5 separate regions of the Homo sapiens genome follow, and all the other regions are reported to be linked to region 3. Evidence: microRNA targets listed by miRTarBase, many of them from high-throughput screens and not tested one by one. Region 3 holds a microRNA gene; each other region holds the end of a gene's coding sequence. Distances are from middle to middle.
The links. The annotated mature microRNA hsa-miR-3688-5p reads AGUGGCAAAGUCUUUCCAUAU and lies in region 3 at 1,926-1,946, shown strand. An mRNA with a match to its seed (bases 2 to 7 or 8) in the 3' UTR can be bound and repressed. Matches are read on the target gene's strand: a 7mer-m8 pairs with bases 2 to 8, a 7mer-A1 pairs with bases 2 to 7 and ends in A, and an 8mer does both.

Region 1 (5,107 bases), not on the chromosome of region 3:
AGCACTCTAGCCTAAGCAACAGAGCAAGACTCCATCTCAAAAGAAAAAAAAAAGAGTATTAAATAACATACACACAAAGACAAATGCAAAAGTACTAACCTGTATGGACTAGGACTATAGGAAAACCTGGAATTTGAGCATTAAATTTGGCTCTGAGCTTACTTTCCCACCCTGAAAGTTCTCCAAGGAAAATGCTTGTGCAGCTGACTGCCAACCCCCCCAGATTCCTCACGTCCCGCACCCTTCTCATTATCTGGCCTGCATCTCTCCTGCTTCAGCACCTTCTGACTCGTTTGGCCTCCTGGATGCCATTCTCCTTGTCATTTTTCTTGGACTGGGTGACCCATGTCTCTCCCTTTCCCTCAGCCTTCCTTCAGATCAAACCACCCTGATCCTCATGTTTCTTCCTATCTCCTAGATATTTGGCATGATCTTCAGTATGATCTTGTGCTGTGCTATCCGCAGGAACCGCGAGATGGTCTAGAGTCAGCTTACATCCCTGAGCAGGAAAGTTTACCCATGAAGATTGGTGGGATTTTTTGTTTGTTTGTTTTGTTTTGTTTGTTGTTTGTTGTTTGTTTTTTTGCCACTAATTTTAGTATTCATTCTGCATTGCTAGATAAAAGCTGAAGTTACTTTATGTTTGTCTTTTAATGCTTCATTCAATATTGACATTTGTAGTTGAGCGGGGGGTTTGGTTTGCTTTGGTTTATATTTTTTCAGTTGTTTGTTTTTGCTTGTTATATTAAGCAGAAATCCTGCAATGAAAGGTACTATATTTGCTAGACTCTAGACAAGATATTGTACATAAAAGAATTTTTTTGTCTTTAAATAGATACAAATGTCTATCAACTTTAATCAAGTTGTAACTTATATTGAAGACAATTTGATACATAATAAAAAATTATGACAATGTCCTGGACTGGTTTTTGTTTTGTTTAATTATTTTGAGAGCTATTTGGTTTGCAAATGTCTTTCAACTCCTATTAACTCCACCTGCATTTTTTTTTTTTTTTAAGACGGAGTTTCGCTCTTGTTGCCCAGGCTGGAGTGCAATGGCCCGATCTTGGCTCACCACAGCCTCCACCTCCTGGGTTCAAACAATTCTCCTGCCTCAGCTTCCTGAGTAGCTGGGATTACAGGCATGCACCACCACACCCGGCTAATTTTGTATTTTTAGTAGAGACGGGGTTTCTCCGTGTTGGTCAGGCTGGTCTCGAACTCCCAACCTCAGTTGATCCGCCCGCCTCAGCCTCCCAAAGTGCTGGGATTACAGGCGTGAGCCACCGTGCCCGGCCCCACCTGCATTTATATGAGAAGTAGATTGGGAGGTTGCTCACCCCAGTTTACTAATGAAGAAATCTAGATGTGGAGAGATTAAAGGATTCTGATCCAAAGTCACACAGGTGTCAACAGAGGAGTCAGCACCAGCACCTGGTCCTCAGACGCTCATTCAGCAGTGGGGTATATCTTGGGGATATGACAGTACACCTCACACCATGGTGGCAGGAACTTTGTTTTATTCACTACCTAGCACCTAGTATCTGGTGCATGGTAGTGTTCAGTATTTTTTATCAGTTAATATTTTTTGGTTGAATGAATAAATGAGTGTGTACCCATCAGGGTTTCATCAGAAAAGCAGAACCACTAAGAGGTACTTGTTTGAAGAGATTTGTTGTGGGAATTTGACCTTACACAGTCACTGGCACTGGGGCTGCTTAAGCAGGCTCTGCAGACAATCGGGAAGGACAGACGGATATAAAGTAAGGGAGGACAAGCCCAAGTGGAAGCCCTTGAAGGCAGACACATCCGTCTGTGTCAGTTCTTTTTTGTTTTTTTGAGACAGGGTCTCACTCTGTTGCCCAGGCTGGAGTGTCATGGCCCAATCTCAGCTCCCTGCAGCCTTGACCTTCCTGGTCTCAAGCAAATCCTCCCAACTCAGCCTCCCAAGTAGCTAGGACTACAGGCATGAGCCACCACACCTGGCTAATGTTTGTATTTTTTGTAGAGAAGGGTTTTGCCATGTTGCCCAGGCTGGTCTTGAACTCCCGGTCTCAAGCAATCCACCTGCCTTGGCCTCTCCAAAGTGTTGGGATTACAGGCGTGAGCCACTGCACCCGGCCCCATGTCAGTTCCTGCCTCTGCTGAGGTGAGCCAGCAGAGAAGCCACAATTCGTGTGAGCTGTAAAATGACTGCTGCTTCACTTCCCACCTCCAAACCTTCCACAAGTTTCTCCTCTGTGCTCCACTCTAACCGGAAACACACGGGAAGGGAATTCTGGGAAGTGTGGTTCAGCTTACCCAGGTGGACAGATCACAAAGCCACCGCTGCATGGGAGGTGTGATCCGTGCCCAGACTGCACTGTCGTGGGCAATTCGGAGGCAAGCAGGCAATGATGGCAGAGTGGGATGAACAGGAGAAAGGTGAAGTGCAGAGGCATAAGAAACCGATTTTTATGTTCCACTCCTTGATTCCATTTGGGTTCCTCCTTAACATTACAAAAAGAAAACCAGGAAAGAAGGATCAAAATGTCCCTGAATGCCATTACATTCAAACATCAGAACACCAAAGTTGATAGCAGCATTATTCACAACAGCCAAAAGGTGCAAACTCAAGTGTCCTTCAACAGATAAATGGATAAACAATACGTGGCCTATCCATATGATGGGCTAGAATTCCACCTTAAATGCTGCAACATGGATGAATCTTGAGTACGTTATGTTCATTGAAATAAGCCAGACACAAAAGAACAAATATTCTACAATTCCCTTGATAGGAGGTACCTAGAATTGGTAAATTTATAAAGAAAGTAGATTAAAAGTAACCAGAGGCTAGGGAGAAGGGAAAATAGGGAGTTATGGTATAATGAGTACAGAGTTTCTGTTTGGGATAATGAAGAAGTTCTGGAAATAGATGGTGGTGATTGTTGCAAAACTTTGTGAATATACTTAGTGCCACTACATTATATGCTTAAAAATTGTTAAAATGGGCTGAGCACAGCGGCTCACACCTGTAATCCCAGCACTTTGGGAGGTTGAGGTGGGAGGATTGCTTGAGCCCAGTCCAAGACCAACCTGGGCAACATAGTGAGACTGCAACTCTACAACAAAAAAAACTGGCTGGGCATGGTGGTGCACACCTGTGGTCCCAGTTACTTGGGATGCTGAGTTGGGAGGATCACCTGAGCCTGGGAGGTCAGGGCTACAGTGAACCAGGATCTCACCATTGCACTCCAGCCGAAGCAACAGAGCAAGACGCTGTCTAAAAAAAAGAACAAAAAAAGGGTCAAAGTGGTAAATTGTGTATTATATTTTACTAAACACACACAAAAAAATAGCTGGTTTGGCATTATTGAGTGTCCTTGCTGCTCTGTGGCCCTAGGTCCCTTATTAATCTGACGGCTGACGACTGTTCCCGTTGTGGAAGTAACAGGTCAACCATTAATTTTATTTTATTTTATTATTTTTGGGAGATGTCGTCTCGCTTTGTCTCCCAGGCTGGAGTGCAGTGGCATGATCTCGGCTCACTGCAACCTCCGCCTCCCAGGGTCAAGCCATTCTCGTGCCTCAGCCTCCCGAGTAGGTCGGACTACAGGCACCCACCACTATGCCCAGCTAATTTTTGTATTTTTAGTAGAGAAGGGTTTTGCCATGTTGGCCAGGCTGGTCTTGAACTCCTGACCTCAGGTGATCCACCCGCCTTGGCCTCCCAAAGTGCTGGGATTACAGGCGTGAGCCACCACGCCTGGCCAACCATTCATTTTATATAGGAATGGAGGAGACCCCTGCGTGTAACCTCCAGCTCCTTCTAGAGAAAGCAGGTCTCAGAGGCTACGAGCACATTCCATGCTGCAGCTTTGCTGAAGGGTAGGTTAGCGTGGAACAGACTGCAGCTACTTAAATCCTGGAACACCTCGGGGCTATCTATATCCTGCCTTTCTGTTTGTTGTTAATAATGTAAGGACAAATGGGCTAGCTTAAGCAAAAGTGAGCAATTAACGCAAGAATGAAAATGGTTGAGCCTTAGGAAGATTCCAGAAACATGGACCAAGAACTCCTACAGCTCTCCATTTCTGCGCTACTATATTTTGCTCTTCGAGGAGACCAACTTTGTTACTCAGCCGCTTCCCGACCGGCTGCCCCCCAGCTCCCAAGCTTACACAGAGGCAACCTCCATTAGCCCCACTTGAAGTTTTAGGAGAGAAAATTTTGACCCAGTTTGAGTCAAATGTCTACCTCTGTTCCTTCAGCTAGCAGCGGGCAGGGAGGGGTGCGTGGAGGAAACACTCAGCCACCCTCTGTGACCTGCTGATTGGGCCCAGCGCCAGAAGACAAGGGATCATTGAAAGCTGGCAGACATCCCAAAAGGAGCTGGCTGTCCACAATCAGGCCGAAACGAGCCTCCCTTGACTCTTGGCGGACAGGGCCAGGTGTAGCTCTGCAGTTTAGGGAGAACCAGGACAGCCTGCTGCTCTCGGGTCCTGAAGGGCCTTGGAGCAAAGGCCTTTAGGAAGTTTTAGGTCACAAAAAGGCAACAGACACTGCCAAAAGCAACAACTGCTTTGGGTCCAGAAAGAATCTCCTTGAGCATAAGAGAAGCAGTTGTATGGAGGTGTTGGCCTCTTGGCTCAACTGTGAAAAGCAGCCCAGGGGCAACAAATTTGAATCAAAGCAGCTGGATTTAGTAAAAGGCTATTACTTTACCCAGTGCCCTCAAGGACTGAAAGTGCTTTAATATCCATAAACCCCCCGGACTCTCCTCCCAAGGCCCTACTCTCCAAAACCACGTCCTCCAGAGGGAGTTGAGTGGCCAAGGGTGGGGCCAAGACTCCACATAGATCCAGGGGCTCATTCCATGATGCTCTCATTTCCTAGAGTCCTCCAGGTGTACAGGGAATTGTTTCACTGACAGACAGGCCAGGATATCTCATAAGCTTCTTGGGCACAAGTTGGAGTGGTATGGGTGGAATTCCAGCACAATTAGGCATATCGTGGTTGGGTGAACACAACCATACAAGGGGGAGAGGTCTCTACCAGTGGCCTGTGCAGTCCTGCCATGTTCTTTCCTGGTCAATGTTTTAAATGATAACTTGGAATACTACTAAAT
Region 2 (5,107 bases), 84 Mb from region 3:
ATTTGTTTGATAGGTAAAAATTAAACTTAGCAGCACCACATTGAATGAACAAAAGCTGTAGAGTCATTGCAAGTGTCATGCTATTCATAGAGATAAGTGCTTCCCATCCATAATATTCTGCAGTCTTTGTGTATGCCTGGCCTTAGTAAAAGGAGGGATGCCCTTAGCACCCTAAATATTGCTTCTACCCCCATCTTCTTCCTGTGTTCCTTAAACCTCTATCACCAACTTAAAAATGTTCTCCAGGCATTGTAAATGAAGAAACAGCTTAGACCTAGTTATAAGCTTTTATCCAACTACATATCTGTCTGATTTAATAACTTGGTGTTTATGTTTTTAGGAACATAGCTACAGTGTAATGGACAGTCCAAAGAAACTTAAGCATAAATTAGATCATGTGATCGGCGAGCTAGAGGATACAAAGGAAAGTCTACGGAATGTTTTAGACCGAGAAAAACGTTTTCAGAAATCATTGAGGAAGACAATCAGGGAATTAAAGGATGAATGTCTGATCAGCCAAGAAACAGCAAATAGACTGGACACTTTCTGTTGGGACTGTTGTCAGGAGAGCATAGAACAGGACTATATTTCATGAAATAATTTCATGTTACGTTCCACCTAAAATTGTCATTGGTACAAATTTTTATAAAATCTCATTTACCATCACTAAATAATATCCATCATTTAAAGTGCTGCTTTGGATTCTCTGGAGCATTATGCATTATAGTTGTTATCCAAAGACTTTTTTGAAAATATGCAGAAATTTGTGGTAATTATGTATTTGTGTCTTGTGACAATTATGTTTTATAGACCTACACTAGTGCCAGGTCACTATTGTAAGATGTTAAAATCTCAAGAAAATTTCACAGAGCTAAAGAAATGATGTCAAATTAGTCACATTAAGCTATAGTAGAAGGAATTGGACACTTCTCCAGATATTTGGCTTCAAAGGAGTACCTTTACTTACATGTGCTTTATGGTAAGTACATTGAATTTTACTTTAAATGCATTTTACTACAAAGCACAATTCATTTGTAATGCATATCCATCTTGGATTCAATCCAAGGTGCTTTAGCTATCAGTAGTACCAAAGGATCTTTTTACAAGGCTTCCTGTGGTATTGACTCTGAGAATAACACATAGTGAAGATCTGTGGGCTTTTAAAATTGTTCACAGCCAATTTAAGAAGACCCCTCATGAAGTCTCAGTTTTCAGTACAGTACATCATTCCTCCTCACTAGGAGCACTTTGATGTAAACCAGAATAGCTTTAAAAAGACAAAAAGGATCGTAGATCTGATTTTTAAATGGTTGGTTGCTCTGACAGATCTGAACACTTTGCTTCATGACTATTTCGTCATAAAGGTATATGTTTAAAATCTGAATGGCAGTACTAGCTCTATACTTTTAATACTGCTTTGTATTTTATATGTAAAGTAGTATTGCTGACATTTTAAAAAAATACAAAATACAAAAGAAACCATTAGAAATTAATAACTGTGGCTCTTCCAGTTGAAATAGGAATTGGAGAGAAAGGATTAGAATATTTTAATTAGGGGAGTAGATTATTGTCCAAAGGCTTTTATTTAGAGAAACGGGTAATTAAAACAGCAGCTTTAGAATAGCTTCTTACTGAATATGCAAAAGAATAATTCCTTGTTATTTCCTAATTGATCCAAGTCTCATAAATTTAGCTTTTGTCATAATTCCTTACCGAAAACAACTGAAATTGAGAGTCATAAATACTGTGGGTTAGAATAAAAACCATTTGCCAAAGCAACACTCTACTTAGAAGCACATGTACATACATGGACCTCATTCAGAAGTCCATGTTGTAGCAGTTAGAATTTGAGTATCAGCCATTTCATTGTAGTAACAAAAATTGAATTGCATTTTGTGCTCAGTTGTTTATTGTAATTTTATTTTTGTTACATTAATATTAGTTAAGATATGGTCACTTGAATTTTTTGTATTTAAGAATTTTCTGTTTTAATGCATGTTATACTTTTATGTAGGATTCCAAACCTTCCCTCTAAATGGGATTTAACCCACATCTGCGAGATCAGCGTTATGCTAAGAGGAAATCACTGAGGCCATATCTTTTTACAATCTGAAAAAAAAGTAGTAAAAAGGTAGTTAAAAAAAAAAAAGGCCGGGTGGTGGCTCATACCTGTAATCCTAGCACTTTGGGAGGCCAAGGCAGGCAGATCACTTGAGGTCAGGGGTTCAAAACCAGCCTGGCCAAGATGGTGAAACCCCATCTCTGCTAAAAATACAAAAAAAAATTAGCCGGGCATGGTGGCACGTGCCTGTAATCCCAGCTACTTGGGAGACTGAGGCAGGAGAATTGCTTGAACCCGGGAGGCGGAGATTGCAGTGAGCCAAGATCACGCCGTTGCACTCCAGCCTGAGCAACAGAGCAAGACTCCATCTCAAAAAAACAAAACTACTTTCATTAATTACCCATTATTTATTTTAGTTACTTAATTTTGAGTTCATAAATGGCCACCCTAATGGAAAGTTTGGGTATGATCTTAGGTTTTATGGAGATGTTTTCAATAGAGATTATTTTTCCCTCACCCTATTTGTGAATATATAAATTAAAGTAAGACAATGGAGTAAGTAAGAGGGTAGATCCAAACACAGTATGTCTAAATTCTAGCACTCTACTGGCTGCTTAGAATACACCAAACCTGGAAGACCTTTCCAAGAGTAAAATCCCAGTCTGCCACTATCAAAATTGCCACAGTCACTTTTACTACTTGTGTTCATAGTAGACTCAGCACTTCTTTTTCACTGGACCTAGTATAACTGAGAAATAAATAACTGTGTGCAAAATATTGGTATCATTAAGGACCCAGAGCTGCCCATTTTCTCTTTGTTCTAATAGGGAAGCAATTACTGATAGAAATGTGAGATTAAAAATAGGGTCCTCCCTGCTGCTCCAAACAAATGCCTAAACACAGTATGTATCTCAGTCCTCTGTTCCCAGAGATTCCACCCTAGCCCAGGAAAGAACTGGCCTGTGTAAAGCAAAACCCAAGTCATCCCCCTCCAGAAATTTCTCTGGCAGCCAAGCCTGACCCTAAGGGTTCCACTTTGCTTTAAAAGCTAGGAGTGGCCTCTAGAGCCAGGAACACATTAATACAACAGTTCAACCTCAGCACCAAGTCAGGTACGAAGCGCTTGATACGTGGAATTTTTCTCTATATCAAGTTTAAATTTCTGGAAATAGACTTTGGTTGCTAATGACAATTACAGTTATACCATAGTCTGTAATTTGAGAAAAGGTGAAATGTATTTAATATATATTTAGTTTTAATAAAAAGATAAAATTATTACAGAAATAATTGAGAGAGAGAAAATCTATTATAATTTATTTGAAAAATAAAACATTTTATCCAGTAATGTGTTATGTGGTTTTATACATTGAGTTATTCAATAAAATGGGCAGAGAAAAATGAAGAGTACGTACGTAGAGGTTTTGCTCTAATTTCTCCTCCACCAATAACTCTAATATGGGGTCTGCAAGGTTAGATGACCCACGTAGCAGGCCAGCTTTCAGCACAATATGGACCTATCATAGAGCCCTTTTCTGCATTGGCCCTCACTCAAAACTGTCAGATATGATGTCACCCAGTATATAAAGGAGAGCAGCATTCCTAGGTGTGAAATATGCTGCCTTTAGAACCCAAAGAGGCCTGTCAGGCATTGTGCTTTCTTCTTCATAGTGGAACATACAGGTTGTAAATAACTTGTCTCTTACTTTAGAGGGGATGTCTTAGCATGCCGCAGATCACTGGATACTTCTCCCCCAAAATTTTACTGATGTTTATAGGCCCCTGAATTTCATAAGTTTTATCTCACCATCTGGAGCACATGTGCTTTATCAAGGCCTCCAATTAACTAGTCCTCCCATTGGATTAACATAATCCATCAGTAGAGTGAACTAAGTGATTTTCCATAGAATGTCTGTCTGGTCTAGACTTCTTTCAATTATAACAGAAGCAAGATCATTAACATAACCTTGGGGACAAGACCATATATGTATACTGTGGTTTTTTCCATGTGAATGTGAGCTGTTTCTGATCCTTTAATAGGGATGGAAAACCATGCACCCAATGGTTGTATGGCATCTACCCATAGACATGTTAATCTGCTCTAACAAAGATGCCACATCATGCATAGCAGCTGTAATCAGGGCTACTCGTTGGTTGAATTGTCCTTAGTCCAACTGTCATCTTGCAGGGTCTGTCTAAATTTTGCAGGGGACAGAATGGTGAATTAAATGAAGAGAGATGGTGGAGGCCACCATTCATGTCTATCTTGTATGTCTGTAAAGGTAGCACCTCAGTGAGCCCCACAGAAAACTCTGAAACTGGGGTCATACACAAAAATGAGTTAACATAGGCATGAAACTGCTATCCTTGGAAAGGCCTGCAAGGTTGCAAGGTTAGTTCTTGAGTGGCATCTGGAAATTTGGATTCCACCATTCCCTAACTGATAAGAGTAGCTCACTGTGCCAGACTGTTTGTACAGACAAGGTGGTTTATGCAGAACACCCAGTTTCCTTCTGGGAGTCTGGATTTGAGAATCTGTTAGGTAAAGGGGGGCTGTATGACCAGCCCCAAATAAAACCTTGAACATTGAATCTTTAATGAGCTTCCCTGGTAGGCAACGTGTATTGTCACAGTTCAGCACTATAAGACTTAAATGTGTCCTGTGTGATTACACTGAGGAAGGACTCAGAAGCTACACCTGGTTTCCTCTAGACTTTGTACCATGTGCCTTTTCCCTTAGCTGATTGTGCTTCTTCTTTGTATCCTTTTGCTATAATCATAGCCTTGAGTACAACTATATGCCGAATTCTGTGAGTCCTTCTAGTGAATCATGAAACTTGTGTGTGTGCTCTTGGGGACCTCAACACAGATGACCTTCCAAACTTGTCCTGCATTAGGGCAAAGAAGCTATATTAATCCGTTTTCACACTGCTGATAAAGACATACCCGAGACTGAGCACTTTATAAAAGAAAGAAGTTTAATGGACTTATAGTTCCACATGGCTGGGGAGGCCTCATAATCATGGCAGAAGGCAAGGAGGAGCAAGT
Region 3 (5,107 bases):
CTGAGAGGCGGAGGGTGCAGTGAGCCGAGATTGTGCCACTGCACTCCAGCCTAGGCAACAGAGCAACATCCTGTCCCAAAAAATAAAATAAAATAAAACAATAATAGATAACTTTTATTTAGAGTAATTTATTCGCTAAGCCTGGGTCTAAATTAAAAGAAGCCCTTCCAGTCCTACTCTACTAACTCTAATTGTTTAAAAATTTTTAATTTTAATAAAATTAGACTTTAGATCCGAAATTCATCTCTAAAATAAAAATGACCTAGCAGAGAAATTTGAATAAAGAAAAATGTGCATGCCTGTAGTTCTAGCTACTTGGGGGGCTGAGGTGGGAGGATCACTTGAGCTCAAGAATTTAACACTGCAGTGAGCTATAATCACACCACTGCAATTCCACCTAGGTGACAGGGCAAGACCCTGTTGTCAGAGGCATTTGAACCAGAGCCAACTCCATCTTAAATAGGGGCTGGGTAAAATAAGGCTGAGACCTACTGGACTGCATTCCCAGGAGGTTAGACATTCTTGGTCACAGGATGAGATAAGAGGTCACCACAAGATACAGGTCAAAAAGACCCTGCTGATAAGACAAGGTAAAGAAGCAGACAAAACCCACCAAAACCAAGATGACAACAAAAGTGACCTCTGGTAGTGCTCACTGTTCATTATTCATTAATTATAATGCATTAGATTGCTAAAAGACACTCCCACTAGCGCCATGACAGTTTACAAATGCCATGGCAATGTCTGGAAGTTTCCCTGTATGGTCTAAAATAGGGAGGAACACCTCAGTTCTGGGGAAAATCCCCACCCCTTTCCAGGAAAACTCATAAATAATTCACCCCTTGTTTAGTATATAATCAAGAAATAACCATAAAAACAGCCAGCCACCAGTCCTCAGGGCTGCTCTATGGAGTAGCCGTTCTTTTATTCCCATACTTTCTTAATAAACTTGCTTTCACTTTATTCTATGAACTCACCCCAAATTCTTTCTTGCCCAAGATCCAAGAACCCTCTTTTCAGGGTCCGGATTGGGACCCCTTTCCAGTAACACTGTCTCGAAAAAGAGAAAAACATCCTAACTAAATTAGAACTTCATTTTGTAAAAGTCTTTATTAACAACAACATAGACATTTACACCTGCTCTTATTATAGGGGGAGTAGAGTGGATAGAATAGGGACTTTGAAATCAGTTATTTGTTCTTAAGCAAATTACTTAATCCCTGCATCTCAGTTTCTTCATTGGTAAATTGATAATAGTACCTCATGCTTTATAAGGTTGATGTTAGAACTGAATAAACCATAAGAAAACATCTAGGTGACTTTCTGGCACATAACACACACTTTATAAATGACAACTGCTTTTCTATGTCTTTCCTGAACTGTTCTGAGATATGTGCTCCCTAAACATAAAATAAAGAACTGACACCATAACTGTAAGCATTATGTATTATTACACTGACAGGCAACCTGAAACCATCAGTGTGGCACTTTCAAAAGGTCTATATTATCAAAGTAACTCTTAAGAGATAACTAGAGGCATAATATAAAGATTCATTAATATTGCACCTTTCAATGGTGAGCATTTATAATATGAAAGCAATTCTAATTGCTTTTCAAATTCTTCAAAAAGAAAGCGATAAGATTTCTATTCAAGATTCTTATTCTTATTACATTTCTATGCAAGTTTCTGCCTCCATGTCTAAGATCACATAGCAGCATTCAAATTTAAATACAGAATGATGACAGATTTCAATAATCAAAAGACTGCATCCATTCATATCATACAATTACAAATCTTTTCTTCTACAAATATGTATTCCAAAAAATATACTTAAAATAGATTTATATATATATATATATACACACACACACACACACACACACCCCCCATATGTATATATATACACACACTCTTCACTTTCAAGAGTGGCAAAGTCTTTCCATATGTATGTATGTATGTCTGTTACACATATGGAAAGACTTTGCCACTCTTTAAAGTGAAGAACTTTTGGTTCAGCTTCTTTATTTAAATAAAATGATCAAAACTATTTAAGATACATTGGTGTAAAAGAGTTTTTACACAATGGTTCTTTGAAGTCTGAAAATGTTTTGGCAAAGAGAAAGCTCTTTACAAAACTCAACATGAAGCCTGTACTTCTAAAATAATCCATATAAGTATTAACCTGCATAACCAAATAATAATTTGAAAACATGGTTTTACTGCTTTGTATTCACCAAAAAGAGGGGTGAATAAACTACTAGCCAAATGTTAAGAATATTAAGAAGATCTTAGCCTATTATCTTTATAAATGACTCACAATTTCTACTGACACTAATATTTTTATTATGTCAGCAATAGTAATACTTTACATTCATGTAGACTTTTCCATTGCGAAGTACTTTCTCATATATTAAACTTACGTAACCCTGAAAATAGGTATGGAAAGCATTGTGTTCCATTTTACAGGTGAGAAAACTAAGATCCAATGAAAATTTCCAGGGTCACGTGGAGAGTAACTGGATACAACATCAGTCCCTCTCTTCCAGCTAGTCTTCCTCAGTAGAATTAGGCCCCAAAATGTACTATTAGATTGACAGTAATGTAAAAGTTAAGACATTATTAGTCTCAGTATTTTTTCTTCTTGGATTTTACTAGATGAAATAGAACGTACAATTTAAAGTATCTCCTAACAAAAGAAAGGTTATAAGGTACATGTATAAAACAGGGAGTTCAAAATTCAAGGAAAGCAAACATATATATACATACCTAAATATAATCCAAGGCAATAAACTGCAGTCCAGGGCATAGAGATTCATAACACCATGCCTAGAATTCAGGACTTTGCTTCTGACTTGCTTCTGTAACTTACACAAATCATGGTGACTAAGTAAAATTTGAATTGCTATCACCTAACCAGGCAATTTTCTAAGAATCAATTTTGACTGTCTTAAAATAATTTACAAGCCTGAACAATGTTGTATTCAAATAATAAAAATAACTGCCTATGAATTAAATTTTAAAAACTGCACCAAACTGAGCTATATACCCCATTAGTATTCTTATTCTATTACTATGAGAATGTCAAACACACTTCATATTATACATTTGAATATTTAAGGAATGCTAAGGTATTATAAAACGCCATGGAGACATAAAGGTCATAAAGGTAGTTTAACCTTTGAGGAATTCTGCAGTTTAAAAATGAGATATGTACACTTAATAATTACGAAATTATGCATTGCCAAGGAATGCCCAGAAGAAACGCAAGCTAAAAACAGTGACAGCATAAAGAAAAATTCAACCTCTAGACTAAGCAACTAGAAGATGCTTCATGAAGGGGGGAACATGGCATTAAATGAGTTACTACCACAGGTAAAAAGGGAGGAAATCAAAAGGTGTGTTTTTTGTGGGGTACTGATAAAGCCCTGAGAATGGTGGCAGTGAGAAGGTAAATAGTATCATAAAACACAAATAAATAGGCCAGGTGCGGTGGTTCACACCTGTAATCCCAGCACTTTGGGAGGCCAAGGCAGGCGGATCACCTGAGGTCAGGAATTCAAAACCAGCCTGGCCAATGTGGTGAAACTCCATCTCTACCAACAATACAAAAATTACCCTGGTGTGGTGGCGTGTGCCTGTAATCCCAGCTACTCAGGAGGCTGAGGCAGGAGAATCGCTTGAACCCAGGAGGCGGAGGTTGTAGTGAGCCAAGATAGCACCACTGCACTCCAGCCTGGGCGACAAGAGCAAAACTCCGTCTCAAGAAAACAAACAACAACAACAAAAAATGCAAATAAACAAATGTTTTCATCCACAAACCACAGTTACCTCTTTACAAAATCAATTCAAACGTAGGAGCAGTTTACCCAGAAGATAGTGTGAGATTATTGTTCTTTGTGGTTACAAATATGATTCTTGACAATTACCATGCACATGAATGGGGTTCTACTTGACAATGAGAAATGAGGACTCGGGTTTTTTCCTCTAAAAGACCATCCTAAATAAACAGGTCTATAACAGCATTTTTCCTCTTGTAGCTCTGATCTTATAATCAACTGAGAAAAATAAAAATGAAGGGAAACTGAAATTATGACCTAGCCTAAAAGCAGAGGGGGAAAAGGATAAGTGTGGGTTCCTGTAAACACTTTTAAGATGGTCATTTTCACAATCAGCAAAGAGGAGTGTTTATCCAGTAAGTTAAAAAGAAAATTCTGAGAAAGTCTTAAAATCTTCTGAGAGATGACAGGGAGGCATCAGGCTTTTTTTTTTTTTTAAAACCTGGACAGGAGATAGAATAAATGACATTTTACAATCAAAATTACTTCACTTATTTCATATATAAAGAAAACTAAAAATATGCAAAAAGCCAGATTTTAAGTTGTGTTGGTGAGACTTTCTTATTTTTAAAAATTTCACCCAGCTTGGTAAGAATGATGAATTGCTTTACACTGGGCTTTCAAAGGTTTCTAGAATTGCTCTCTCCTATGCTATTTTGTATTTTGTTTCAACCAATTTGGAGATAGGTGTTTTCCTGAAAATTGTGTTTAACTCTCGTCCTTTAAAAAATAAAAATCACAACTAGAAATGTATAAAATGCTACACAGTAAGTTTGAAGGAAGGCTTAAATAGTATTCAATCCTTTCCAAAAAAATATTGTTTTCATAAAAAACATAAAAATTGAGGATAATCAATTTTTATACTTTCAAATATCACCCAGTTATTTTTGACCAAGTAGTTAAAGGAGAATAAACACTAGCAACATTGCTATTGGGAAGTGCTGAGTTCTGATAGCAGACACATTGTAGTAAGTTTTTCATTAGCATTTTTCTACAAAGTTATACTTAACATCACTGGCAAGATACTGTTGCCAAATTCTGAGTGGTCAGTGTCTCTCCTGAACCATGATGAAAGCAAATGCTCTCAACTAAGTAATTTCACATCTAACAACCAAAATCCAATTGGAACAGCCTCTTTTCTTAACACATATTGATAAAATTGTCATAGATGCACAGACTATAACAGCGAATTATTATTTTTTTTTTTTTTCGAGACAGATTCTCACTCTGTCGCCCAGGCTGGAGTGCAGTGCCGCAATCTCAGCTCACT
Region 4 (5,107 bases), not on the chromosome of region 3:
CCACTGCCTGCCTGTCTAGGAATCCTTGTCCAGAAGCAGGACTCTCTCTCCCCACCTCCCTCTCTCCACCCTCCCCTTCGCTAGCAATCTTGGTAAAATTCCAGGTTATTGAGGCATCTACTTGGGAACATTTTAGCTAACAGTTTCTTCAGCTCTTCTTTATGGTTTTGTATAACCCTATTTAGGGCATAAAGTCTGAAAGCTGAATTATCTCACAAAGGATTTTAAAGGAGAATTAAATCTGATACAATTTTTTTTCTCTCTTTAGTACGTTTTGCCAACCTATGAAATGGCCGTGAAAATGCCTGAAAAAGAACCACCACCTCCTTACTTACCTGCCTGAAGAAATTCTGCCTTTGACAATAAATCCTATACCAGCTTTTTGTTTGTTTATGTTACAGAATGCTGCAATTCAGGGCTCTTCAAACTTGTTTGATATAAAATATGTTGTCTTTTGTTTAAGCATTTATTTTCAAACACTAAGGAGCTTTTTGACATCTGTTAAACGTCTTTTTGTTTTTTTGTTAAGTCTTTTACATTTTAATAGTTTTTGAAGACAATCTAGGTTAAGCAAGAGCAAAGTGCCATTGTTTGCCTTTAATTGGGGGGTGGGAAGGGAAAGAGGGTACTTGCCACATAGTTTCCTTTTTAACTGCACTTTCTTTATATAATCGTTTGCATTTTGTTACTTGCTACCCTGAGTACTTTCAGGAAGACTGACTTAAATATTCGGGGTGAGTAAGTAGTTGGGTATAAGATCTGAACTTTTCATCTGCAGAGGCAAGAAAAATATTTGACATTGTGACTTGACTGTGGAAGATGATGGTTGCATGTTTCTAGTTTGTATATGTTTCCATCTTTGTGATAAGATGATTTAATAAATCTCTTTAAATACTTAGGGTTGTCATTGTTTTTAATCCGTTACTTTTTTTTAAGATAAACCCTGACATTTTCCATTACAGTGTATTCAGAGTGCCAGTGTTTATTTTTTTTTTAACTTTGAGAATACAGTTGGCCCTTCGTATCCATGGGTTCTGTATCCATGGGTTCTATATCCATGGAGTTAATCGACTGTGGATTGAAAATATTTGGGGGGAAAAATGGATAGTTGGATCTGTACTGAACATGTACAGACTTTTTATTCTTGTCGTTGTTCTCTAAAAAATACACTATAACAATTTATGTAGCATTCACATTATATTAGATATTATAAGTAATCTAGAGATCATTTTAAAAATATGGGAGGATATGCATGGGTCATATGCAAATACTATACCATTTTATTATAAGGGACTTGAGCAACTGTGGATTTGGGTATCTGGAGGGAGAACCTGCAACCAGTCCCCCATAGATACCAAGGGACAACTGCACAATGATGCACAGTTAATTAGAAATCATTTTCTTAATCCATTAACTCTAAATTTGTGGTGAAGATATTTCTTGAATCACAGGACAGAAATTAATACCGGTGGTTTGAAAAGTGATTGCTGTAGCAATCTTTTTTTTATGTCTTATTTTTTTTCTTTCCAACTTCTTAGGTTCAGAGGGTACATGTGCAGGTTTGTAACATGGGTAAATTGTGTTGCAGGGGTTTTGTCAGTGTTTTGTCATCCAGGTTGTGAGCATAGTACCTGATAGCTAGTTTTTTGATCCTCACCCTCTACTCTCAGGTAGGCCCTGGTATCTATTACTCCCTTCTTTGTGTCCATGTGTACTTAATGTTTAGCTCCCACTTATAAGTGAGAGTATTTGGATTTCTGTTCTTGCATTAATTTGCCTAGGATAATGGCCTCCAGCTCCATCCATGCTCCTGCAGAGGACATGATCTTGTTCTTTTTTATGACTGTAGTATTCCATAATATATATGTACCACATTTTCATTATCCAGTCCACTGTTGATGGGTATTTAGGTTGATTCCATGCTTTTGCTATTGTGAATAGTGCTGTGATGAACATATGTGTACATGTGTCTTTTTGGGAGAATAATTTATATTCCTTTAGGTATATACCTGATAATAGGATTGCTGGGTTGAATGGTAGAATGTTTTAAGTTTGAGAAATCCCTTATGCTGCTTTACACAGAGATGGAACTAATTTGCATTCCCACCAACAGTGTGTAAGTGTTCCCTTTTCTCTGCAACCTTGCCAGCATATGTTTCTTTTTACTTTTTAATCATAGCTGTTCTGACTGGGGTGAGATGGATTTCTCTGATTATTAGCATTTCTCTAATGGTTAGTGATGTTGAGCATTTTTTCATTTACTTATTGGCCATGTGTATGTCTTTTGAGAAGTGTCTGTTCATGTCCTTTACCAATTTTTTTTTTTTTTTTTTGAGACAGGGTCCTCGCTCTGTCACCTAGGCTGGAGTGCAGTGGCACGATCTTGGCTCTCTGCAACCTCCACCTCCTGGGTTCAAGCGATTCTCATGACTCAGCCTCCTGTGTAGCTGGGACTACAGGTGTGTGCCACCACACCCGGCTAATTTTCGTATTTTTAGTAGAGATGGGGTTTCACCATGTTAGCTAGGCTGGTCTCGAACTCCTGACCTCAAGTGTTCCACCTTCCTCAGCCTCCCAAAGTGCTGAGATTACAGCTGTGAGCCACTACACCCAGCCTCCTTTGCCCACTTTTAATGTTGTTGTTGTTGTTGTTGTTTTGTTTTTTGCTTAAGTTCCTTATAGATTCTGAATATTAGACCTTTGTCATATCCATAGTTTGCAAATATTTTCTTCCATTCTGTAGGTTGTCTGGTTGCTCTGTTGATAGTTTCTTTAGCAGAGCAGAGAAGCTCTTTAGTTTAATTAGGTCCCATTTGTCAATTTTTGTTTTTGTTGCAGTTGCTTTTGGTGTCTTCCTCATGAAATCTTTGCCAGGGCCTACATCCAGAATGGTATTTCTTAGGTGTCCTTCTAGGGGTTTTGTTTGTTTTGTTTTTTCAGTTAGGTTTTACATGTAAGTCTTGATATGGGTTTGGATTTGTGTCCCCATCCGAATCTTATGTTGAATTGTAATCCCCAGCATTGGAGGTGGTGCCTGGTGGGAGGTGATTGGATCATGGGGGTGGTTTCTCGTGGTTTAACATCATCCTTCTTGCTGCTGTTCTCGTGATAGTGAGTTATTGCGAGATCTGTGTGTGTAGCACCTCCCCCTTCTCTCTCTTGCTCCCGCTCCTGCAATGTAAGATGCTTGGCTCCCCCTTTGCCTTCTGCCACGACTGAAAGCTCCCTGATGCCTCCCCAGAAGCTGATGCTGCCATGCTTCCTGTACAGCCTGTGGAGTGAGCCAGTTAAACCTCTGTTCTTTATAAATTATTCAGTCTCAGCTATTTCTTTATAGCAGTGCAAGAACAGACTAATAGAAGTCTTTAATCCATCTTAAGTTATTTTTATATATGGTGAAGGTGTCTAGTTCTAATCTGCATTTGGCTAACCAGTTATCCCAGCACCATTTATTGAATAGTCCTTTCCCCATTACTTATTTTTGTCAACTTTATTGAAGATCAGATGGCTGTAGTTTGTATGGCTTTATTTCTGGGTTCTGTATTTGGTTCCATTGGTCTGTCTGTTTTTGTACCAGTACCATGCTGTTTTGATTACTGTAGTCTTGTAGTATAGTTTGAAGTTGGATAATGTGATGCCTTCAGCTTTGTTCTTTCTGCTTAGGATTGCCTTGGCTATTCAGGCTTTTTTTGGTTCCATATGAATTTTGAAATAGTTTTTTCTAATTCTGTGAAAATGCCATTGGTAGTTTAATAGGAATAGCATTGAATCTGTAAACTGCTTTGGGCAGTATGGCCATTTTAACAATATTGATTCTTCCTATCTGTGAGCATGGAATCTTTTTCCATTTGTTTATGTCGTCTCTGATTTCTGTCAGCAGTGTTTTGTAATTCTCATTATAGAGATCTTTCACCTTCCTGGTTAGCTGTATTCCTAGCTACTTAAGTCTTTTGTGGCTATTGTGAATGGGATTGCATTCTTGATTTGACTCTCAGCTTGGGTATTATTGTTGTATAGAAATGCTACTGATTTTTGTGTATTGATTTTATATCCTGAGACTGCTGAAGTTTATATCTAGGAGCTTTGAGGCAGAGACTATGGGGTTTTCTAAGTTTAGAATCACATTTTCTGTGAAAAGAGATATTTTGACTTCCTCTCTTCCTATTTGGATGCTTTTTATTTTTTTCGCTTGCCTGATTGTTCTCACTAGGACTTCCAGTACTGTGTTGAATAGGAGTGGGGAGAGTGGGCATCCTTGTCTTGTTCCAGTTCTCAAGCAGAATGCTTCCAGCTTTTGCCAATTCAGTGTAATGTTGGCTGTGGATTTGTCATAGATAATTCTTATTGTTTTGAGGTTACGTTCCTTTGATGCCTCATAGTTTTTTAAGGGTTTTTGCCATGAAGGGATGTTGAATTTTATTGAAAGCATTTTCTGTGTCTATCGAGATGATCATGTGGTTTTGTTTTTAGTTCTATTTATGTGATGAATTACATGCATTGATTTCCATATATTGAACCAACCTTGGATCCTAGGAATAAAGCCCACTTGATCACAGTGGGTTGGCTTTTTGATGTGTTGCTGGGTTTTGGTTCATAAAAGGCAGTTCCCCTGCACACACTGTTGCCTATTACCCAGTTCCAAAGTCGATTCCACATTTTCAGGTCTCCTTATTTATGTTCTTCAGGGATATTGGCCTGAAGTTTTCTTTTTTTTTGTTGTGTCTCTGCCAGGTTTTGGTATGAGAATGATGCTGGCCTCATAGGATGAGTTAGGGAGGAATTCTCCTCAAGTTTTTGGAATAGTTTCTGTAGGATTGGTACCAGCTCTTTATATGTCTGGTAGAATTTGGCTGTGAATCTGTTTGGGACCTTTTCCAGTTGGTAGGAGTATTATTATTACTGATTCAATTTCAGAACTCAGGCTGGATACAGTGGCTCATGCATGTAATCCCAGCACTTTGGGAGGCCAAGGCGGGTGGATTGCTTGAGGCCAGGAGTTCGAGACCTGCCTGGACAATATGGTAAAACCCTGTCTCTACTAAAAATACAAGGTCAATGTGAAAGAAAAAATATTAAAAGCAGCTAGAGAGAAGGGGCAGGTCAGCTA
Region 5 (5,107 bases), not on the chromosome of region 3:
TTGTCAGGATAAAGAGGCAATAGACAACGGGTATTGAGACCACAAGTGTAGATTATTCATTGTAGAAGCTTAACTGGAGAATAACTGAAGGGATCAAAGAAAGGGACTCTTCTAGAAATAGACCTTTGGGTTTTGAAAGCAAGAAGAAAGGAAATAGTGTAAGGAATTATAAATGGCATAGAATTGGAGGGGGAAATCATTTAAAAAATGTGTTTGAATTGAAGGCCCTTTGGGAATGGGGAAGTGATAACTCTAGGGGAGTTGAAAGACTTTGTTTTAGAGTAGAGGAACTATGAGGCAGTGTACTTGATCGAACACCTCTGATAGTCCGAGTATGGTTACCTCAATAAGTAACCATTCCTCTTGCTCCAAGCCTGATGGGAAGGTAAACATAAGAATAGAAATTTCTTGAGCTGAAGTGAAGTGAAGGAACTCCCTCCCGAAAACCATGGCATGTCACGAGGAACGTTTATTGTAGGTTAGGCGGTCTGGTGCCTCTAGGGGGGACAATCAAATGATACAGGACCTCGAAGAGTCTTACTTTGGATTTCTGTGGCTTTATAATGTAGTATATTATGTAGTTCATTGCTGTGGCTTTATGCTTTTTTATTATTTACAAGTGATTTACTGATTTGTGAGCTCTTGAAACTGTGTCATTGCATGTTATGTTTACCCTGATAGTTGCATTTGCTTATAATTCTTTTTGCTTTGTCTTCAGTTCAGATATTTTGGATGGCAGTAGTAGCAGCAGTGGCTTATCCTCAGACCCGCTGGCTAAAGGCAGCGCTACCGCAGAGTCTCCAGTAGCATGCTCCAATTCATGCTCTTCGTTCATCTTGATGGATGATCTCTCACCCAAGTGACTTAACCATTTCTGATTCAACGTTTTAACTGCTGTTTCCTACATAAAATGTTTAGTGGGGAACGCAGAGAACTTTGATCCATAATGAGGATTAAAGTTTTACAGATTTCACACATTCTGATGCTATTATTACTCTTTGGCATCTCTCTTCTCCAAAGTTCAATTTTGTGAGCCTAGTGACCTTACTAGTATCTGGTTTTGCTGATCTCATTTTGGATTTAGTGATTAAATCTCAAATGCTGATTTTTGATTGCTTAGAGGAATCTTTTTTCTTAGTGCCTCAAAAAACACCTATTTTGAGTCTATACATTTAAGAAAGGCACTGATGTGTATTGCCTTTAATGGTCCTTTTCCGCAGCAGTGATATGACAGATTTGATCAGAAATTCTCTTGCTTGAGAGATTTTTTTTTGTCCTCTGTTGACTACATAGTTTCAAATCTCTCTTTATTTCATGATGATATATAAATTGCTTTTAATTATATTAAATTTTTATTTTTCTGCATCAGCTTCAAGTACATTATTTTGTTTCCCTTTCCTGTTTGAGCCGCTTATGCCATTTCTCACAGAGGGGAAGAAATACGTAGTTGCTTTCATTACTCTTATTGCTTCTTTGCTGTTGGGGTGTGTGAAGTGAGCATTGATTTTAGTGCTGAGAATGTAAACGGACTTACAGGATGCTTGGATTAGTCATCACAGGTTCTTATGACTTTGCTACCACAGTTGATATATTTCTCCTCAAACCTGTTGCCCTAAGGAATATATAAAATATTGTTGATATTTCTAGGTGGTGTTATCAAGGAGAAGAAATTCCTGCCTTGACCAGATGTGTGGAGCATCTACAAATGAATGAATAGTTATTTACACACAAACCACTGTGTACAAAAGCGTCCATGGAGCTGTCAGTGTCTCGAGTGGTATTATGAGGCCTCAGGTGCCTTGGGGTACATTGTCATGCTATAAGGGATGTATATCATAAGGTATGGTGGAAGAGGGGCCTTATGTGAATGATTGCCACATACTGTTTCTGTTGCTGCTTTTTTTCCGATTCCTTTTTGTCATTGGATTTGTTTGTTTTGTCATGTGGTGAATGGTGTTTTAGTTATTGTGTTGCTGCCAGAATCAGAATCCAGTTCTTGTTCTTACTGCCTTATAGTTATTGTGTTGCCACCAGAATCAGAATCCAGTTCTTGTTCATACTGCCTTGTAGTGAGGGCAGTTTAATATCTACAAAGAAGCTTTTAGAAGCTGAAAAAGTCAATGTGATTGTGCATTCTGCTTTTAAGAAGCTGTTTCAGCTATGAACTGTGTATGTGCTATAAGTGTGAGGTACCATAAGTTATTTAATTTTTAAAAGAGGAAACTCCTGAGTGAGCTGTTTAAGAAATCTGAGTGTGATCTATTGTTACGTTATTTATAACTAGGTAAAATGTCTGTCGTGATAGATTTCTTTTAACGTTCAGATACTGTGGTTGGGTTGTCTATATTTAATATGCAGATTTGCCTGCTGGAATCATAATCCATTTTTAAGTGAATGTAAGAAATGAAAACTACTGCATTTGTGTCTTTTGAAGGCAAGGATCCTTGGATTTTAAAGGAAGAGTATGTGCTTTGAAGGCACTCAGAGACTAGTAATAGCATATGGTTTGAAGGGAAACCCATTCTCTTTCAATTACAAGAGAGCATCACTTAGCGTGCAGTACTTCTGTTACAGCATCCGATGTGTCCTTTATTTTAAATTGTAACCATAACAGCCATTAATGGCTTTATTTCTTGTATTGCTCTCATCTGGGAAAAGTCTCTACTTCTTCAAACGTAACATAAATCTATTATGAAGCTTGTCCCCTAGTATGCCATTATAAAGAAAAAATTCTTCGATGGTATGCAGTGTATCTATTCTGTTTGTAAAAGATCATGTCAAAATGTTCTGCCTCTATAATGATAATAGATGGTTTTGTCTTTCAGGATATTTATCCACCTACTGTCTTCTTTGCCTTAAAGGGACACTTGGCCATCATTTTTAGGCTCGAACTTAACACTGTTAAGAAATAACTGAAATATGATGGTATTTACATTAATTTTTGAAATTCAATGGTGGGATAGAATTAGGTCAGGAAATGGAAGTTGTTCCAATGGTGTGAGAACTAGGAGACAAGATGATTCACTTTATTATTTAAACCAAGCTTCATTTTTAGTTTTTGTTGTTTAAATGGACTGGAAAGTTAAGTTTTTGCAGGGATTGTTTTGAAATAAAGAGATATGCTAACTCACAGATGAACTTTGTTAAGACCCCTTTATTTTTATATAAAGTCTAATATTTGAAAAGCGATTGTTATAAAGTAAAATTCTCTCTTCCTATTCTAATATATATCATATATTTCAGGCTTCTATTTGAAAACAGGTATAAGAGATGATATGATACAACCCTATAGATAATGTTTTTTGCTTGATTGACTTATATAATCACTGTTTCATGATTACTGCTTTTGGAATAATAGGAAGTTTTGTGAAATGCTGGCCTTGTGTATATCTTAGAATGCAAATTTAATAAAGTGTGTATACATGCATAAAATTTACTAGTGTTTTAAAAGTCTGTCCTTTGTTCTTAATAATAATTATTTTCTGCCCCTATATCCCAGTAGTTTATTCTCTGTGTCTAATTGCAGGTCAAGTTTGAATAAAAGGATATCAGAAACACAAAAGAACGAATAGCTATGTTGAAGTTGGGGCTGTTTGCCAAAACGAAGTGAAACCTCTCCACATAATCAAATTTTCAAGAGTATTTTGTAGAATTTGACAACTTAGAAGGTTCTTGCCAGGGTCATACATCTTTCTTCCTCGTTTTCAATTTGGTTTATCTTGTTAAAATTTTTACATATTGATAAGCCTCTATAAATTATTTTTAGAAAAAGATGAGGGTAGATAAACAGGCAAAAGGGTCCGGGCACAGTGGCTCACGCCTGTAATCCTAGCACTTTGGGAGGCTGAGGCAGGCAGATCACGAAGTCAAGAGATCAAGACCATCCTGGCCAACATGGTGAAACCTCGTCTCTACTAAAAATACAAAAATTAGCTGGACATGGTGGTGCACACCTGTAGTCCTAGCTACTCGGGAGGCTGAGGCAGGAGACTCGCTTGAATCCGGGAGGCGGAGGTTGCTATGAGCCGAGATTGTGCCACTACACTCCAGCCTGGTGACAGAACAAGACTCCATCTTAAAAAAACAAAAAACAGGCAAAAAGCCTTTTATGTGTGATTCAGATTATTAAGTTTATCTTCAGTTTCTTTTTTTTTTTTTTTTTTTTGAGGCAAAGTTTTGCTCTTGTTGACCAGGCTGGAGTGCAGTGGCACAATCTCTGCCCACTGCAACCTCTGCCTCCTGGATTCAAGCATTTCTTCCTGCCTCAACCTCCTGAGTAGCTGGGACTACAGGCGCCCGCCACCATGCTTGGCTAATTTTTGTATTTTTTAGTAGAGATGGAGTTTCATCATGTTGGCCAGGCTGGTCTCAAACTTCTGACCTCAGGTGATCTACCTGCCTCAGCCTCCCAAAGTGCTGGGATTACAGGCGTGAGCTACCTCGCCTGGCCCTATCTTCAGTTTTTAAGAAATAACATGAGCTGCTTTATTTTAAAATACATTTTGGGCTGGGCATGGTGGCTCACGCCTGTAATCCCAGCACTTTGGGAGGCCAAGGCGGGTGGATTGCTTGAAGCCAGGAGTTTGAGACCGGCCTGGGCAACATGGCAAAACCCTGTTTCTACTAAAATTACAAAAATTAACTGGATGTGGTGGCGTGCGCCTGTAATCCCAGCTACTTGGGAGGCTGACGCTTGAACCTGGGAGGCAGAGGTTGCAGTGAGCTGAGATTGCACCACTGCACTCTAGCCTGGGTGACAGAGCGAGACTGTTTAAAAAAAAAAAAACAAAAAAAAACCTTTACATTTTGAAATTTGAAATAATTTCAAACTTACAAAAAAGTTGTAAGAGTAGCTCAAATAACTCCTATATATCCTTCACCCAGGTTCCTTAATTGTTAACATTTAACCACATTTGCTTTGTCTATCTGTCTCTCCTATATATGCACTATCATTCTGTCTCTCCCTGTGTCTCTCTGTGTGGGGGGGATGTATATACATATATATATATATGCACGTATACATTTTTTTCCTGAATCATATGATGCCCCATTGCCCTTACATGCTTCAGCGTAAATTTCTTAAAGATATTCTACATAACCACATTAC

Region 1: the mRNA of CD9 is a reported target of hsa-miR-3688-5p. Seed matches in the 3' UTR shown: 7mer-m8 at 584-590.
Region 2: miRTarBase lists THAP6 as a target of hsa-miR-3688-5p. Seed matches in the 3' UTR shown: 8mer at 2,740-2,747.
Region 4: the mRNA of LAPTM4A is a reported target of hsa-miR-3688-5p. Seed matches in the 3' UTR shown: 8mer at 630-637.
Region 5: the mRNA of PABIR2 is a reported target of hsa-miR-3688-5p. Seed matches in the 3' UTR shown: 8mer at 1,872-1,879 and 7mer-m8 at 2,025-2,031.

What each region holds. Positions count from the first base shown.
Region 1 is chr12:6,237,345-6,242,451 of GRCh38, forward strand. CD9 (CD9 molecule) reads left to right here. Exons shown (of 8, transcript NM_001769.4): 8 at 419-922. The coding sequence ends at 484. It overlaps LOC105369625 (a long non-coding RNA gene), which reads right to left. Exons shown (of 5, transcript XR_001748979.2): 4 at 2,302-2,489. Among named protein-coding and RNA genes, the nearest start is that of CD9, 39 kb to the left of the region's middle. RefSeq lists enhancers at 3,878-4,378, 4,379-4,879.
Region 2 is chr4:75,526,620-75,531,726 of GRCh38, forward strand. THAP6 (THAP domain containing 6) reads left to right here. Exons shown (of 5, transcript NM_144721.6): 5 at 341-3,407. The coding sequence ends at 595. Among named protein-coding and RNA genes, the nearest start is that of THAP6, 15 kb to the left of the region's middle.
Region 3 is chr4:159,125,699-159,130,805 of GRCh38, reverse strand. It overlaps MIR3688-1 (microRNA 3688-1), which reads left to right and starts at 1,912; the gene lies at 1,912-2,004. All of the region lies in intron 1 of RAPGEF2 (Rap guanine nucleotide exchange factor 2), which reads right to left. MIR3688-2 (microRNA 3688-2) reads right to left here and starts at 2,001; the gene lies at 1,915-2,001.
Region 4 is chr2:20,028,441-20,033,547 of GRCh38, reverse strand. LAPTM4A (lysosomal protein transmembrane 4 alpha) reads left to right here. Exons shown (of 7, transcript NM_014713.5): 7 at 269-898. The coding sequence ends at 343. Among named protein-coding and RNA genes, the nearest start is that of MATN3, 18 kb to the right of the region's middle.
Region 5 is chrX:134,767,895-134,773,001 of GRCh38, reverse strand. It overlaps PABIR2 (PABIR family member 2), which reads left to right. Exons shown (of 10, transcript NM_001387468.1): 10 at 719-3,436. The coding sequence ends at 863. Among named protein-coding and RNA genes, the nearest start is that of PABIR2, 27 kb to the left of the region's middle.